Regions from separate parts of the Homo sapiens genome. Here region 1 is linked to region 2. A link means that fine-mapping ties the variant in region 2 to the expression of a gene that starts in the linked region. Tissue or cell type: whole blood. Region 2 holds a variant in brackets; the other region holds the start of a gene. All regions are shown on one strand. Distances are between the middles of the regions.

Region 1 (8,106 bases), 280 kb before region 2:
GCGTCTGTTGTCCCAGCTACTCAGGAGGCTGGGGTAGGAGAATCGCTTGAACCCAGGAGGCGGAGGTTGCAGTGAGCCGAGATCGCGCCACCAGCCTGGGCGACAGAGTGAGACTCCGTCTCAAAAAAAAAAAAAAAAAAAAAGATGGGGTTGAGATGGGCACGGTAGCTCATGCGTGTAATCCCAGTACTTGTGGAGGCTGAAGTGGGTGGATTGCTTGAGCCCAGGAATTTGAGACCAGCCTGGACAACATGGCAAAACCCTGTCTCTACAAAAAATACAAAAATTAGCCGGGCATGATGTTGTGCGCCTGTAGTGCCAGCTACTCCAGAGGCTGAGGTGGGAGGTTGGCTTGAGCCCGGGAGATGGAGGTTGCGGTGAGCCCAGATCGCACCATTGCACTCCAGCCTGGGTGACAGAGCCAGACTCTGTCTCAAAAAAAAAAAAAAAAAAAAAAGCAGTTGATTTTAAAATGGTGTCACCCTGTCTCTCCTAGGCTCCTGTTTTCCTAATAGCATGAACAGCCCCCCCGTCAGCTCCTACCCCTTGGTCTCTGACCTGTTCCTCCTCCGAGGTGACCTCTATCCTGAATTTTGAAAACATATTAGTATTGCCTGTTTCTGGACTTTGTGCAGATGAAGTCATTGGTATGTATTCATTTGCATCTAGTGTTTATACATTCATAAAATAGATCACTGTGTAGCCATTAAAAATAATGAGAGAGTGCTATATAATTTCATATGAAACATATCAGGACACATTGCTAAGTAAAAGCAAAGAGAAAGCAGACACCGAGTGTAGACTGTTATATGCATGAATGTCTCTGAACAGTATATGAGGCACCTTCAGGTCTCTTTTTTATTTTTTTTTTTTTTGAGACAATCTTTCTCTGTTGCCCAGGCTGGAGTGCAGTGGCGCAATCTGGGCTCACTGCAACCTCCACCTGTCGGGTTCAGGCAATTCTCCTGGCTCAGCCTCCCTAGTAGCTGGGATCACAGGTTCCCGCCACCATGCCCAGCTAAGTTTTTTTTTTTTTTTTTTTTGAGATGGAGTCTCACTCTGTCACCCAGGCTGGAGTGCAGTGGTGCGGTCTCGGCTCACTGCAAGCTCCGCCTCCCGGGTTCATGCCATTCTCCTGCCTCAGCCTCCCGAGTAGCTGGGACTACAGGCGCCCACCACCACGCCTGGCTAATTTTTTGTATTTTTAGTAGAGATGGGGTTTCACCGTGTTAGCCAGGATGATCTCGATCTCCTGACCTTGTGATCTGCCTGCCTCGGCCTCCCAAAATGCTGGGATTACAGGTGTGAGCCACCGTGCCTGGCCCCAAAGATGATTGTCTTATAAAAGCCTATGTAACCCTTTTCATTTTTTCTTTAAAAAATGTCTTCCTTTACCTCCTGGAACACATCCATACTTATTCCCATTGTAATGCCCGTTCCTGAATAAACATCATTGTTTTTTTAGAGAGGGAGAGAGAGTCCATTGGTGAGAGAGTCTCACCAATCTCCTGTCCCCAGGGCACTTCCACCCCTGGGTATTTGTACTGATCAACCAGGTTACGCTTTCAGCATTTGCAAACTCAGGATGGAGATTTTAGACCCTCTTCAACCTCCAGGTTTCCTCTTTGCAAAGGCCAGCAGCAGAAGCAAAAGAGATGGAGCCCGGGTTAGCATTTATTTTTCTATTTACCAGTCATTTGGAATTTGGACATTTTCTGTCCTGTGGTTGTGGTGAGGGTGTGGGTTTTGTGTTGTTTTATATATTCTTTGTTATTTTTTATTCTAGTTTTTGTTTTTGTTTTGGAAGGTATTTTAGAGAAATAAGATTTCTGTGGTTACCATGACCTGCTGTTACAGATTACATGGTACCCTCTCTTCATATGTTGAAGTCCTAGCCACCCCGCCGAACCTCAGAATGTGACTGTATTTGGAGATAGGGTCTTTACAGAGGAAATCAAGTTAAAATGAAGTCATTAGGGCAGGCCCTAATCCGATATGATCCTGTGTTCTTAGAAGAGGAAATGTGGACTCAGGTGTGTATGGAGGGAAGATGTCTTGCAAGCCCAAGGAGAAGATGGCCATCTGAGCCCACGTCCTGGAACAGAGACTTCCCTCACAGCCTCAGAAAGAACCAGCCCTGCTGACGTCTTGATCTCAGACCTCCAGCCTCCAGAACTGGGAGACGATTCAGTCAGCATCTACACAACACAGGGTTGAACTGTGCGGGTCCACTTCTATGCAGATTATTTTCTTTTTTCTTTTTTGAGACAGAGTCTCGCCCGGTTGCTCAGGCTGAAGTGTAGTGGTGTGATCTTGGCTTACTGCAGCTTCCACCTCCCAGGTGCAAGTGATTCTCCTGCCTCAGCTTCCCAAGTAGCTGGGACTATGGGTACTCGCCACCACACCTGGCTAATTTTTGTATTTTTAGTAGAGATGGGGTTTCACCATGTTGGTCAGGCTGGTCTTGAACTCCTGACCCCAAGTGATCTGCCTGCCTTGGCCTCCCAGATTGCTGGGATTACAGGTGTGAGCCACCGTGCCCGGCCCTATATAACTCTTTGTGCAAGTTTTTACCCCTAAAAGATATCTGCCATCTCAGCCATGGAACAGACACTGTAAGAACATGAAGGCTCAAGGGCAGGGCTGGCTACATAATTTGTGGGACCCATTACAAAATGAACATGGAGAAAAAACTAGAAAAAAGTGTAGTACAAGGTACTATAATAGATTTTTCCTTTGAAAACAGTTTAATACTTATAAAATGTAATAGAGGGAAATAGTGACACGTGAGTAACAAAATGGGCGTATCAATTGGTCTATGCTATTTTTGGTGTTATAATTTTACCTAATATAATAAGCAGCAACACTTTGTTAGTGAGACGGGCTTTCACCATGTTGGCCAGGCTGGTCTGGAACTCCTGACCTCAGGTGATCCGCCTGCCTCAGCCTTCCAAAGTGCTGGGATTACAGGTGTGAGCCTCTGCGCCCGGCTGTGATGTCTTGATTGATCATAGGATTTTTCTGGCTATTCTAGCTACTTCCAATTCGCTTCAGCCAATTTAGTTGAAGTTTTATCACTTGTGACTTCAGAGTCCTGGTTAATATCCTGTTGCCCTCAGGACATGCAGGATGGAGGAAGGCACCAGGGAGCCGAGGGAAGTGAGCAGAGAGGCAGTCACTTCAGGGCCACCAGCATAGCCCCCGTCACTGTCCACAGACACAGGCCCTTCCCCTTCTCATGGTTGAGCAGGCTCCACCTCACTTCCGTGTATGACTTCATAGACCGTTAGGTTCCGTGGTACCCTGGAGTCCACAGCTGCTGAATCTGAAGGGCCATCAGAAGACTGGCTTCTCCATGATGGTTTATGGACTAAGGCAAAGATGAGCAGAGCCATGGCCCTCTTCTTTGTTCTCTGCTGGATCCAAGGTATATTGCTGTGGCAGCTGGAGAGAAACATGGGCCTCACTTCAAGCCTAAGTGGGGCAGAGGAGGGCGTTCCCTCCCACAGTGTGGGGAACACAGATGCTTTACCTACTCTACCTTCTATACCTCCCCAAATCTGCCATTCAGGGTTTATTACTTGGGGGAAGGGAGTAACTGAAAACATTTTCCTAACTTTGAAGCTTTCTCAAAATTCAGAGCTCTATAGGAGGGTGGCATACATGCGTATTTTAACTTTTCACTGTAAGCATTTCCAAACATATGCAAAAGTAGAAAGATTAGTATAAAGAACCACCATATGCTAACTAACCCTCCTGATTTTATCTATATATATGCACTATTTAAAAAATAACAGGGTTAGGCCGGGTACAGTGGCTCACTCTTGTAACTCCAGCACTTTAGGAGGCCAAGGCAGGAGGATTCCTTGAGCTCAGGAGTTTGTGACAGGCCTAGGCAACATCATGAGAGCCTGTCTGTATAAAAAATTTTAAAATTAGCCATGCATGGTGATGCGTGCGTGTGGTCCCAGCTACTAGGGAGGCTGAGGTGGGATGATCACTTGAGCCCAAAAAGTCGAGGCTGCAGTAAGCCGTGATCACACCACTGCACTCAAGCTTGGGCAACAGAGTGGGATCCTGTCTCAAAAAAAAAAAATTAGTAATAACTTTATAGGATATAATATATAATAAAATTCACCCTTTATTTTATTTTTCTATTTATTGTTATTATTTTTGAGATAGGTTCTCCCTCTGTCACCCAGAGCTGGAGTGCGGTGGCATAATCACAGCTAATTGCAGCCTCAACATTCCAGGCCCAAGGATCCTCCCTTCAGCCTTCCAGGTAGCTGGGACCACAGGCATGTACCACCACACCCAGCTAATTTTTTAAATTTCTGTAGAAATAGGGATCTCACTATGTTGCCCAGGCTGGTCTCAAACTCCTGGGCTCAAGTGATCCTCCTACCTTGGCCTCCCAAAGTGCTGGAATTACAGGCATGAACCACTATGTCTGGCCAAATTTACCCTTTACAAAGTATATAATTCAGTGGTTTTTAGTATACTCATAGAGTTGTGAAGCATCACTATCTAATTTTATTTAATTTTTAATTTTTTAATTTTTTGAGATGGAGTGTCGCTCTCTCACCCAGGCTGGAGTGCAGTGGCGCTATCTTGGCTCACTGCAACATCTGCTTCCCAGGTTCAAGTGATTATCCTGCCTCAGCCTCCCAAGTTGCTGGGATTACAGGCGTGTGCCACCACGCCTGGCTAATTTACTAAACTAATAAATTACTAAATTAGTAAGTTACTAGTAAATTAGTAATTACTAAAATATAATTTTTAGTAGAGATGGGATTTCATCATGTTGGCCAGGCTGGTCATGAACTCCTGACCTCAATGGATCCTCCTGCCTCAGCTTCCTGAGTAGCTGGGACCACAGGTGCACACCACCACGCCCAGGTAATTAATTTTTATTTTTTGTAGAGTCGGGGGTCTCCCTATGTTTCCCAGGCTGGCCTCGAACTCCTGACCTCAAGTGATCCTCCCACCTCAGCCTCCCCGAGTGCTGGGATTAAAGACGTGAGCCACGGCACCTGGCCTGAATTTTCCTCAAATTCAAAAAATCCTGATGAAGGTTTGGCTAAAATCTTTGGTGAGTTACCCCACTCCCTGTGGAACCTCAGGCTGGATTTGAAGAGTTGCGTGCATGGTCCTCATTGTCTCCCAGGTAACCTGTTCCCGCTGCTGTGAAGGGAAGGCAGGTGCTCTTCCTTGAGGCTAGAATCTGTCTACGTGTCACAGTCTCAGGAAATTAAGCAAAACAGATGATAAACACCTCAAAAGGACCCTACTGAGCATCAGTGGAGCAGAGCAGGGCCATGTGGGACTGCGGCGTCAGATGCCACCTCACACTAGCTGTGACACACCTGCCTCGCCAGTTTCTGCTCTGAGGCCCCAAAGCCGAGCTGAACCTCCTCCAGGGGTTCTCAGCCCTAACTGAGCATGAAAACCCCTGGGGCAATCCTCTTTTTAACAATTGAGACATTCCACACACACCCCACATCAGATTTTGGGGTGTGGGGATAGACCTTCACATTTGTAGTTTTCTAACCCTCCAGGGGACACTAGGCTGAGACTCATTGGTCTCCACTCTGAACCTTCCACTGAACATGTGAGAAAAACTAAGGCCCAGGGAAGTCTTTAGCAGAGAGCTGAGACGGAGAAAAGGGTTCTGAACCACAGCTGTCTGCTGAAGGAAGCTGTCCAAAGGCCAGTGAAGTCTCTCCTGAGGGTGCCTGGGCTGTGCATCAGGAGTGAAGGTTGAGGGTCACCTTAGGTGTGAGAAGGAGCAACTGGGAGAGTGGCGCTGATGCTTCCCCCCGGGTTAGGAGGCATTTGGATCACAGAGCGATGCCTGTTCATTCCTGCTTGCAAGGGAGCAGATCTCTCGACACCCGATGGGCCTCTATTCCGTTCCGGCAGCTGTCCGTGTCAGGAGCGCTGGGCTTGCTCCTCCCCACGGGAGCCATCACAGAGGCCTCGGGCAGTCTGCATAGACAACTGCCTGGCAGGTGACCAGGAGGGGATGCATGAGCAGATGCAGGTAGCACTCGCAGTCCCCCTAGCTGTGCCCTCAGCACCTGCTGTCTAGGAGGCAGAAGCCTTGTTCTCGGCCTTGCAGGTGACCCCAGTGTCTCTGAATTCGGCCCCATATGTGTAGGAGGGGAGTGATTGCATCTGAAGATGGGAGTCTGGTTGGGGGTTTGGGAAGCTCCCATCACCCCTCAAGAGTCCACTGACCAGCCCAGCTCACACCAGGTGGGCCTTGGCACTGGAGGCCACGGCTCAACTCTGCAGTTCCCTCTGGGCAGCATTTCCAGGGACTCGTAGGTCAGCATGGTCATCAAGGACAGGTGGTGAGAGCAGCTCCTCATTGTCCTGGTGACCCCGATGGTTCATTTTCTGGTGTCTCTGTGGTGAGCTCCTGTTACATCAAGCGAGTGGAAACCACCGAGGACCAACAGCCCTGGAAATGCACTGAGAATGCAGGATGAGTGGGCTTTGTGAGGACTGTTTTCTGTGACTTAGCAAGGAAAGCCTGGAAGGGAAAGTAAAACTGCTTCTTCCCAGGGAAGCCAGAAACCTGAGAACTTAAAAGGGAAGGAGAACTTAATATATTTCAAAAATGTAACCCTTGTGAATTAGCAACAGCTTTATAAACAAAGAGATTTCCGAGCTTATAGAATCTATTCTGCTTTGTTTCTGCCCCCATGGCTCCTACCCCTGTTTTTGTGGGTACAATTTTCATATAGAACATTTTTACACAAGCTTCAAAACTCTCTGAGGACAGCTTTCCCCTTTGTGTCTGTCGGGTCCCAGGCAGTCACATCCCAGGAAGTGCTGGGGTTGGGCTCCTTGCTCCACATCCTTCTTCAGTGGCACGAAGCGTGGGGTGGAGTGTGTGAGTCATGTGTGATCTTGGTGTGGGCTATGGCTGGTCTGCAGCACCCCTTCAATGACTGCTTCAAGGGCTTTTCATGATGCTTGTAGCTCATGAGCTAGTGTTTCCTAGATGCTGTTTCCAGGTGTCTTGCATGTCACACACTGGCCTACCAGGGCTGGAGTGAGATCATGAGCGCCAGATTGTTGGTGAAGGAAGTTGACAGAGACATCGAATGTCGGTGAACAGGAGTGACCTTGGGTCTCAATAAATACTGTGGTCAACTGAATCCAGAACCCACCCTTACCAGCAGGGCCCACTTCTTCCCCAGCAGGCCGAGCTCTTCCCCTCCTGTCTTCCCTGGCCCTTGCTTTGTAGCTCTGTGTGGCTGTGTCATGTCTGGTTGTATCTGTATATACTTCTGCCTCTCCCGCTATCTAGATGGCTCGGGGAGGCACACCACACACCAGGTCACCTTCCTCTCTGAACCCCCAGCACCTCATACTGTTTCTGTGCAGAGATAAGGCTGGGTGAAAGCTTGTGTGAATGATCTGAAGTCTTCTACTCTAGGCCAGTCTCCAGGAGCATTATGATCTTTAGGAGGGTGGGCTTGGTTCCTCTGTACAATAATGGGTCATAAAACTGAGTGGTCAAGATCATCCCGGTGAGGGCAGTCCGTGTGTTGCCATAGTTGCTGTACCGGTTAAGAATGCACCTGGCTGCAATTTCCTGAAAACCTGACGTATAGTGGCTTAAACAAAGAGTGGTTTATTTTCCTTCTGTCATAGCAATCTGGGGGAGGCCACTGTGGCTTTGGCGCAGGAGGTCGGGAAAGGCCCGCTTCTCTGATATCATTGGGGGCCTCCCCAGTGCTTGTGTGGCAGAATGACAAGAGGAAGAAGAAGGAGAATTATGGCACTGAGTATCATGAGATTTGGGGTCATATATCTTTAGTGGGCGGTGTTTGCTGCCCCAAATGTCTCATGCCATTAAAATGTTCTGGAAATGATTTAGGTAGTTGGAGTTTCCTTCCCAAAGACAAGGCATTTACAGCATGATGTCCAATATCCATTGAGTTTGTGTCATGCATTCATTGTATTCATAGTCTGCTTTAGGTACTTAGCAAAATATTGCTGATATTAACATGCCTTTGTTTGCTTCACTGGAGATGAAATTGTGCTCCAAGTGTTTTCCAAGGTTCCGTATGACCCATCATTTGATGAAAC
Region 2 (8,106 bases):
CTCTGTGGCAAAGAGCATCAGGACAGGGTCTCTTTACCGGATATTCCCCTTCAGGCAGCAACAGACTGGGAGAGCAGTTAACATCACTGACTTAGAAATAATTTTTTTTTTTTAATTACGGGTTTCTCAGAAATCATGTAGAAGTTGAATGAGTTCAGAGCCAGAACTAGGGCATGGGTCTGCTGATTCCAAGACTCCAATATCTACCACATCTGCATTCTGGTTTATCAGCTCAAGATTCCAGTCTAGTTTCTCAACACTGTGGAATGAAAAACTGCTCAGCCATCAACTTGTAACCAAAGATGACTAATATTTTAGCCAATAAGGATTAAAAGGAGGAAAACGAGCTTAGTTTCCAGGTACTAATATCCTTTTAATAGCCTAAATTTGCAGTAAAGAAAGTACAATAAGCTGGAAATAGCCAACAAACCAAGAGGAACTCATTTCCTACAGAACACATGCACTGTTAATTTTAGGGATTTACCAGAGTTGCACATTTTAAAGTTAAAATGATAGAACCAGAGAACAGAAGCAGAGAGCAGAATAAGTCAACAGTTCACTGATGGTGCAGACTCACATTCAGCACAACCAGACATATTGTAACAGGAAAAAAAAAATCCCTTTAAGTGAAAATAAGGATTTAAGGAAGTTAGAAAAACATGGAGTCAGTTAGGTTTGGTGTGTAGGTTCTGGTCTACTTTTGTAGTCTGTAGTTCCAAAGACAATTGAGTTTTGTAAGCCCCTGTGATGGTAATATGTGTCTGCTTCATTCTTCTAGCTCTGCTGGAGCTCCCACTGGATAGCTTCTGGTGCCACACAGCGGGGTGGAAGGCACATCCTCAGGCTGCACAGTATGATTAGGCCAGTGGGTAGGGGACTGCCAGACCTGAGGGGTGAATAAGAGCATTTCCCGTGGCTTGTTCTACAGTCACCTCACTGGTAAGCTTCTCACTCTATCTCTGCTGGGCCACTGTTGTGGGCAGACTAGGCCTGCTACTGCCACTGGGTAAAATGTCTCATTGGCAAGTCCCTCCTGGGCTTCCCTTTTCCTGATCCTTTGGCCAGAGAGGACAGGGTTTTCTGTTTTTTGTTTTTGTTGCTGTTTATGCCTGTTGGCAATTTCAAGTTGTACTCCACTCCAGTCTGGGATACACGGGGGAAAAACACAAACACGCATACACACCACACCGCCCCAACACACATGCATGGAAATTACTCCAGTCCAGTGTGTTTCAAGTCCTAACGTCCCCTAGCCAGTCCACCCGCTTTCCACCTTTTAGAGTCCTTTAATACCATACAGGATCAGTGAACTTGAAGACAGATCTAAAGAAGTGTTCAATTTCGGCCAGGCGCAGTGGCTCACACCTGTAATCCCAGCATTATGGGAGGCCAAGGCGGGCAGATCACGAGATCAGGAGTTCAAGACCAGCCTGACCAACATGGTGAAACCCCATCTCTACTAAAAATACAAAAATTAGCCAGGTGTGGTGGCGCACGCCTGTAATCCCAGCTACTTGGGAGACTGAGGCAGGAGAATCGCTTGAACCCGGGAGGCGGAGGGTGCAGTGAGCCAAGATCACGCCACTGCACTCCAGCCTGGGTGACAGAGCGAGACTCCATCTCCAAAAAAAAAAAAAAGAATTGTTCAGTCTGAACAGCTGCAGAAAAAGTAGGCTGAAACAAAAAAATGAACAAAGCCTCAGGGACCTCCAGGGCAATAATGAAAAATCTAACATTAGGAGAGGAGAAAAAATGTGACGCTGAGGGAGGATTTGAAAAATTAATACAGGAAAACTTCCCAAATTTGGTGAAAGACATAAACTTACAGAGCGAATTCCAGATAGGATAAACCCAAAGAAATTCATATCAAGACACATCACAAACTTCTGAAAACTAAAGACAAAAAGTCTTAAAAGGAACCAAGAAAAATGACACATTACCTATACTAGAACACCAATTCGAATTGGTGTTCAGTCTGAAACCATGAAAGTGCAAAAGGAGTGGCATATTTCTTAAATGCTGAAATATAAGAACTGAAACATAAGTACTGTCAATTGTGTGGGCCCAGCACGGTAGCTCATGCCTACAACCCCAGCACTTTGGGAGGCCGAGGCGGGAGGGCCACTTGAGCCCAGGAGCTCGAGACCAGCCTGGGCAACACAGTGAGACTACATCACTACAAAAAAATTTTAAAAATTAGCTGGGCATGGTGCTGTGCATATGTAGTTCCAGCTACTCAGGAGGCTGAGGTGGGAGGATTGCTTGAGCCCAGGAGGTCAAGCTGCAGTGAGCCATGATTGTGCCACTCACTGTACTCCTACCTGGGTGACAGAGTGAAACCCTGTCTCATTAAAACAAAAACAAAACAAACAAAAAACAACAGAAAACTGTTAATTATGAATGCTATAACCAGCAAAGCTATCCTTCAAAAAAGAAGGTAACATAAAGGTATTAGCAAATTAAAAATTTTGTCACTACCAAGCCTACGCTTAAAGAAGGTCTAAAGGAGTATCTTCAAAAAGAAAGAAAATAATAAAAGGCAGCTTGGAATTTCATAAAGGAAACAAGAGCAAAGGAAGGGGTAAATATAAGAGACCATCCTTTTCCATCAAGTTTCTTAAATCATACTGACGGTTAAAACAAACTTAACATCTGCTGTGCTCAATGTATGGAAATGAAATAACTTCAGAAAAGTGCATTTTAAAAAACAGAGAAGGCAAAGAGACCTTAATGAAAGTCAGACAAAACCCAACTACATACCGTCTAATAAAACTTATTTCAAACACATCAGTTTTACATAAAAGGTCGTTAAAAGATATATCATGCTAACATTATTTTTTAAAAACAGGTATGGCTATGTTAACACAGATAAGGTAGATTTCAGAGGAAAGAAAATTACTAGAGACAAAGACATTACATAACGATACTTTAAAAATCAATCCATCAATAAAAAAATACTGCTCCTAAAAGTAAATGCACCAAACAACAGAGTTGCAAAATAATAAAACAAAAACTGATAAAGCTAAATTACAGGTGGAGATTTCAACACTTCACTGTCAGCAACTGGTAGAACTAAAAGAAAATTAGCAAAGACAGAAAAGAACTGAACAACAATCAACCAACAGGATCTAAAAGACATCTCCAGAACACTCCACCCTACAACAGAATATTCATTCCCTTTAAGCTACCGTGGACCATGCACCAGGACAGACCATACCCTGGGTCATAAAACAAACCCCAACTATTTTAAAATAATTAAAATTATTCCATTTTCCAACTATAATGCTGGTGAACCTTAAGTTCATATGATTTCCAATCACAATGTAATCAGACTAGAAATCAGTAACAGAAACATAACACAAAAATCTTCAAACACTTCTGTATACCACATGTCTAAACAAATCATTGGCCAAAAAGCAATAGAACAGCAAAAAATACATATACGTAAATAAAAATAAAAACGCAAAATATCAAAAAACAGTTCTGACCGAAACACTTATGTCACAGTGACGCTTATATTAGAAAAGAGGAAATGGTCTCACATTAATAATCTCTGTCCCCTACTTTAAGAAACTAGAAAAAGTAGAGCAAAATAAATTCAAAGCAAGTAGAATGAAAATTATAAAAACAAGAGCAGAAACCAATGAAATTGAAAACAGGAAAATAACAACAACAAAAATCAATGAAATCAAATACTGGTTCTCTGAAAAATAATCAAAACTGAAAAGGCTCTAGCAAGACTGACAAAAAGGTGAAGACACAAAGCACAACCATCAGGAATGAAACAAGGGATAGCTTCATACTATAGCCATTAGAAGATTACTAAGGGCATAGAATGAATAACTTTATGCTCATAAATTTGACAACTTTGAAAATACGGACCAATTCCTCAAAAACCACAAACTACCAAAGCTCAACCAAGATGAAGGAAATGGCCTGCATATACCCATAACCATTAAAGACAGTGAATTTGTGAAGAGAAAGATCTCAGCCGGGCGCAGTGGCTCACGCCTGTAATCCCAGCACTTTGGGAGGCCAAGGCGGGTGGATCACCTGAGGTCAGGAGTTCGAGACCAGCCTTACCAACATGGTGAAAACCCATCTCTACTAAAAATACAAAAAATTAGCTGGGCGTGGTGGCGTGCGCCTGTAGTTCCAGCTACTCAGGAGGCTGAGGTAGGAGAATTGCTTGAACCCGGGAGGCAGAGGTTGCAGTCAGCTGAGATCACGGCATTGCACTTCAGCCTGGGAGACAAGAGTGAAACTCCATCTCAAAAAAAAAAAAAAAAAAAAAAACTAAAAAAGAGAAAGATCTCCAAAAAAGAAATTCCCAGGCCAAAATGGCTTTACTGGAAAATTTTACCAAACATTTTAAAAAGAATTAGGGCCAATTTTACATAATCTAGTTTAAAAAAACAAAGAACATTTCCCAACTCATCTAATGAAGCTAGTGTATTACTCTTGACATCAAAGCTAGACAAAACCATTGCAAAATTTTTTTAAAACTATAGACCACTATTCCTTATTAAGTTAGATGCAAAAACCCTCAAACAAATACCAGCAAACTGAATCTAGTAATATAGAAAAAGGACTACACACCATAA[G/A]CAGAATTTATCCGAAATATGCAAGACTGAATCAACATTTGAAAAAAAATTAATGGAATCAAATATACTAATAAATAACAAAATCATATGATCATGTCAATTGATGCAAAAAAAATCATTTGACAAAATCCAACATCTCATCATGATACAAATTCTCACTAAAATAGGAACAAACTGGAACTTCCTTTACTTGACAAAGAGCATCTGCAAAAATCTATACCTTAATGGTGAAAGAATGGTTTTCCCCTAAGACTGGGAAAAGGTGATCCACAACTTTTTTTCAGCACAGTACTAGAAATTCTAAGATACTGCAATAAGGCAAGGAAAATAAAATGCATACAGATCAGGAAGGAAGAATAAAATTGTCCGTATTGGCAAATGATACGATCGTTTACATGGAAAATCCAAAGGAACCTGTGAAAATCATCTAAAACTTCTAGAATAAGTAAGTTCAGCAAGGAAGCAGGATATAAGATTAACACACAAAAATCAATAACATTTCTATATACTAACAATGAACATATGGAAACCAAAAAGTTAAAAACAAGACACTATATACTAACAATGAACATATGGAAACCAAAAAATAAAAAACAAAACACCATTTACAATCACTCTGGAAAGTGAAATACTTGCAATCACTCCGGAAAGTGAAAGCTATGTACAGGATCTATATACTAAAAAATTTTAAATGCTGATTAAAAAAAGAAAACCTAAATAAATGAACATATATAATAGAGTACTTAACACAGGAAAAATGTCAATTCTCCCCAAATTAATATACAGGTTTAATGCAATTCCTATCAATATCTCAGCAACATATTTCATACACACAAACTAGCTTATTCTAAAATTTGCATGCAAAGGTACACACCCTAAAATAGTCAAAACAATCTTGAGAAATAAGGAAAAAGTGACAGAAATTACTTTCCCCAATATTAAGGTAGAGTAAGAGTAAGGGTAGTATTATTCTAGTAATAGAGTACCTGAGAGAGTGTGACATTGCCAAAATGACATGCACAGACTAATGGAATAGAACAGATGACCCAGAAAGAGAGCCACACAAATATGCCCAATTGATTTTGATACAAGTATGAAAATAATCCACTGGAGGAATTTTTTCAATTTTCAATAAATGGTGCTAGAGCAACTGGACATCCACAAGCCAAAAAGTGCCAAATATTTTTGTATCTCGGAACCAACTTGCTAAATGGAAATGTGAAATAGTTACAATGGCCCATCAGATAATTTCTTGATTATACAGAGAACAATTATATTTTTACTCCATTCTTTAACTCATGTGGTATTGATCTCCTATTACTTTGATCAAAGTTTCAGGGTACAAATTAAAATTTCGATTTTTTTTCAAGGAAAGTTTATAAATAACAGGTCATACTCCAAAGTGGTAAAAGAAAAAAAAGACTTAAAGTTTGGAAAATTTTCTTGGGCATAGTAGTAACTGGGGTAAAAAGAGAAAAATTTATGTCAAAGTGAGAATGTGTTATATATATTTAAAAATATTTCTCTTTTTTCATTAAGTAGTGTAAACTAGATTTTTTTTTTACTACTAAACATGACTTTTGTAAATACATGGTCCAAAAATTTTATTCTCTATTAGTCTTTAATAGTTTATTCTCCATCTCTGACATAAATTTTAAGTTAAAAAATTATCCAACAGCGGCTGGGCACGGTGGCTCACGGCTGTAATCCCAGCAGTTTGGGAGGCCGAGGCAGGCAATCACCTGAGGTCAGGAGTTTGAGACCAGCCTGGCCAACATGGTGAAACCCCATCTGTACTAAAAATACAAAAATTAGCCGGTGTGGTGGCATGTGCCTGTAGTCCCAGCTATTCAGGAGGCAGAGGCAGGAGAATAGCTTGAACCCGGGAGGCGGAGGTTGCAGTAAGCCGAGATCGCGCCACTGCACTCCAGGCTGGGCGACAGCGTGAGACTCCGTCTCAAAAAAAAAAAAAAAAGTTATCCTACAGCAATAATTTTTAAAATGAAGTTAAATGTTTGAATAAATGTGAGACTTTGTTCACATTTATTCCAAAAGGAAAAAAATTGAAAGACACCAAATTTGGCAACTTCTAAGCACAATAATGTTTACATAAAAACAAAAAGCAAAGAAACAAAAATTTTGTTGTGCCTGGTACTTAATGATTTACATAAACTAAATTTTAGCATTACTATGAATTTTAGTTTATTATTTTTAAAATTTATTTAGTCACATGTTTTACTTTTGACTACATACATATGAAACAACATTATATATTTTATTTTTCCCCCTCTAGTAACCAGGCACAAATTTTAATGTACTTCTAGTCTGTCCTGGCTTGCTTTGAAATTCAAGGGATACTATTTTGGTGCTGACCACTGACTATAAACAGAAAGTACCAGCTAACTCATAGGATGGGGAGAGGCAAGGTTATTTCATGATCTCATTGTGGGATGAGGCAAACCTAAACTTAAAAAAAGAAACAAGTTACCTCTTCAAGACATTAGTTTAAAAAAAAAAATGTGCTCAAGTGTTAGAACTTCTATTCCAAAGGACAAAAGTTTCCTGTTTTGAAAACATGCGGGAAAGCTTATACCTGCTGGCATGGCTGCCAAGTATGTTGACAAATAATGAAAGTTTCAAAACTAGGCCTCTGAAATACAATTAGCTAATGTCATAGTAGGTGCCTTGATTATTCCAAAAAAAAAAAGATAACTTTTAACTAAAAGCTACTGCACATAACCACAGTGCTAACGGCTAAGGCTGGACCTCCTCAAGGAACTCATACACTGAGATGAGACACAGACGAATAAATCAAGTACTGGGTGCTCCAGGTGCACTGAAACCACCAAATTCAGCCACAAGGGTTTATGGAGTGGTTACGTCTGAAGGAAGAGTCAGGTGAACACGGAGGTTAAGGTAGGGCATTCCTACCAGAAAGCACAACAGTGCAAAGGAATTTGAGGTATGAAAAATCATGGTTCTTTAAGAAGATAAGTCATTTCATAGGTCTGAAATCTGGGGAGCATTGAAGAGAATTAAGAAGAGGCTGGAGAGGGGGGCAGAAGCTGAGCCACCATCCACACCAAACCCTGGAAGTTGTGTGCTATTTTTCCCATTTTCCAGTAATTTGCCCAAGGTCAAACTTCTGGCAAGTGGCAGAGATGAGAGGACAGATCAGGTCTGCATCTCTACAAAGCTCAAGCTCAGGCTGTCTCTCAACGACCTTCCAATACTTAGAATAATCTCCCAACAGGTGCAGCTTCCTGAAGACAGAGAAAGCCCATGGTGAAGTAGAACAGTAACAAACCCTGAAACCAATCATTAAAGTAGCTGTTCTCAAAGTGGAGTTCTTGGACCACTGCATTAAAATGCCTTGGTACTCAGCAAAAGGTAGATTCTGGGCCTACATTCAGACATACTGAATCGCATTCTCTGAGACTGAGCCTGGGAGTCTGCATTTTATGATACCCACAAGCTTTGAAGGCTGGTGATTTAAATGCCT

Evidence for each region. PIP is the estimated chance that this variant, and not a neighbour inherited with it, causes the effect.
Region 1: C2orf92 starts here. The variant in region 2 is fine-mapped to the expression of C2orf92 in whole blood (INTERVAL, PIP above 0.99).

The regions. Positions count from the first base shown.
Region 1 is chr2:97,666,408-97,674,513 of GRCh38, forward strand. C2orf92 (chromosome 2 open reading frame 92) reads left to right here and starts at 3,306. Exons shown (of 8, transcript NM_001351368.2): 1 at 3,306-3,427; 2 at 8,049-8,106. The coding sequence starts at 3,382.
Region 2 is chr2:97,950,534-97,958,639 of GRCh38, forward strand. The region is part of intron 1 of TMEM131 (transmembrane protein 131); the gene reads right to left. Among named protein-coding and RNA genes, the nearest start is that of TMEM131, 41 kb to the right of the region's middle. RefSeq lists an enhancer at 7,302-7,381. The variant G/A (reference allele first, on the strand shown) is at 4,605.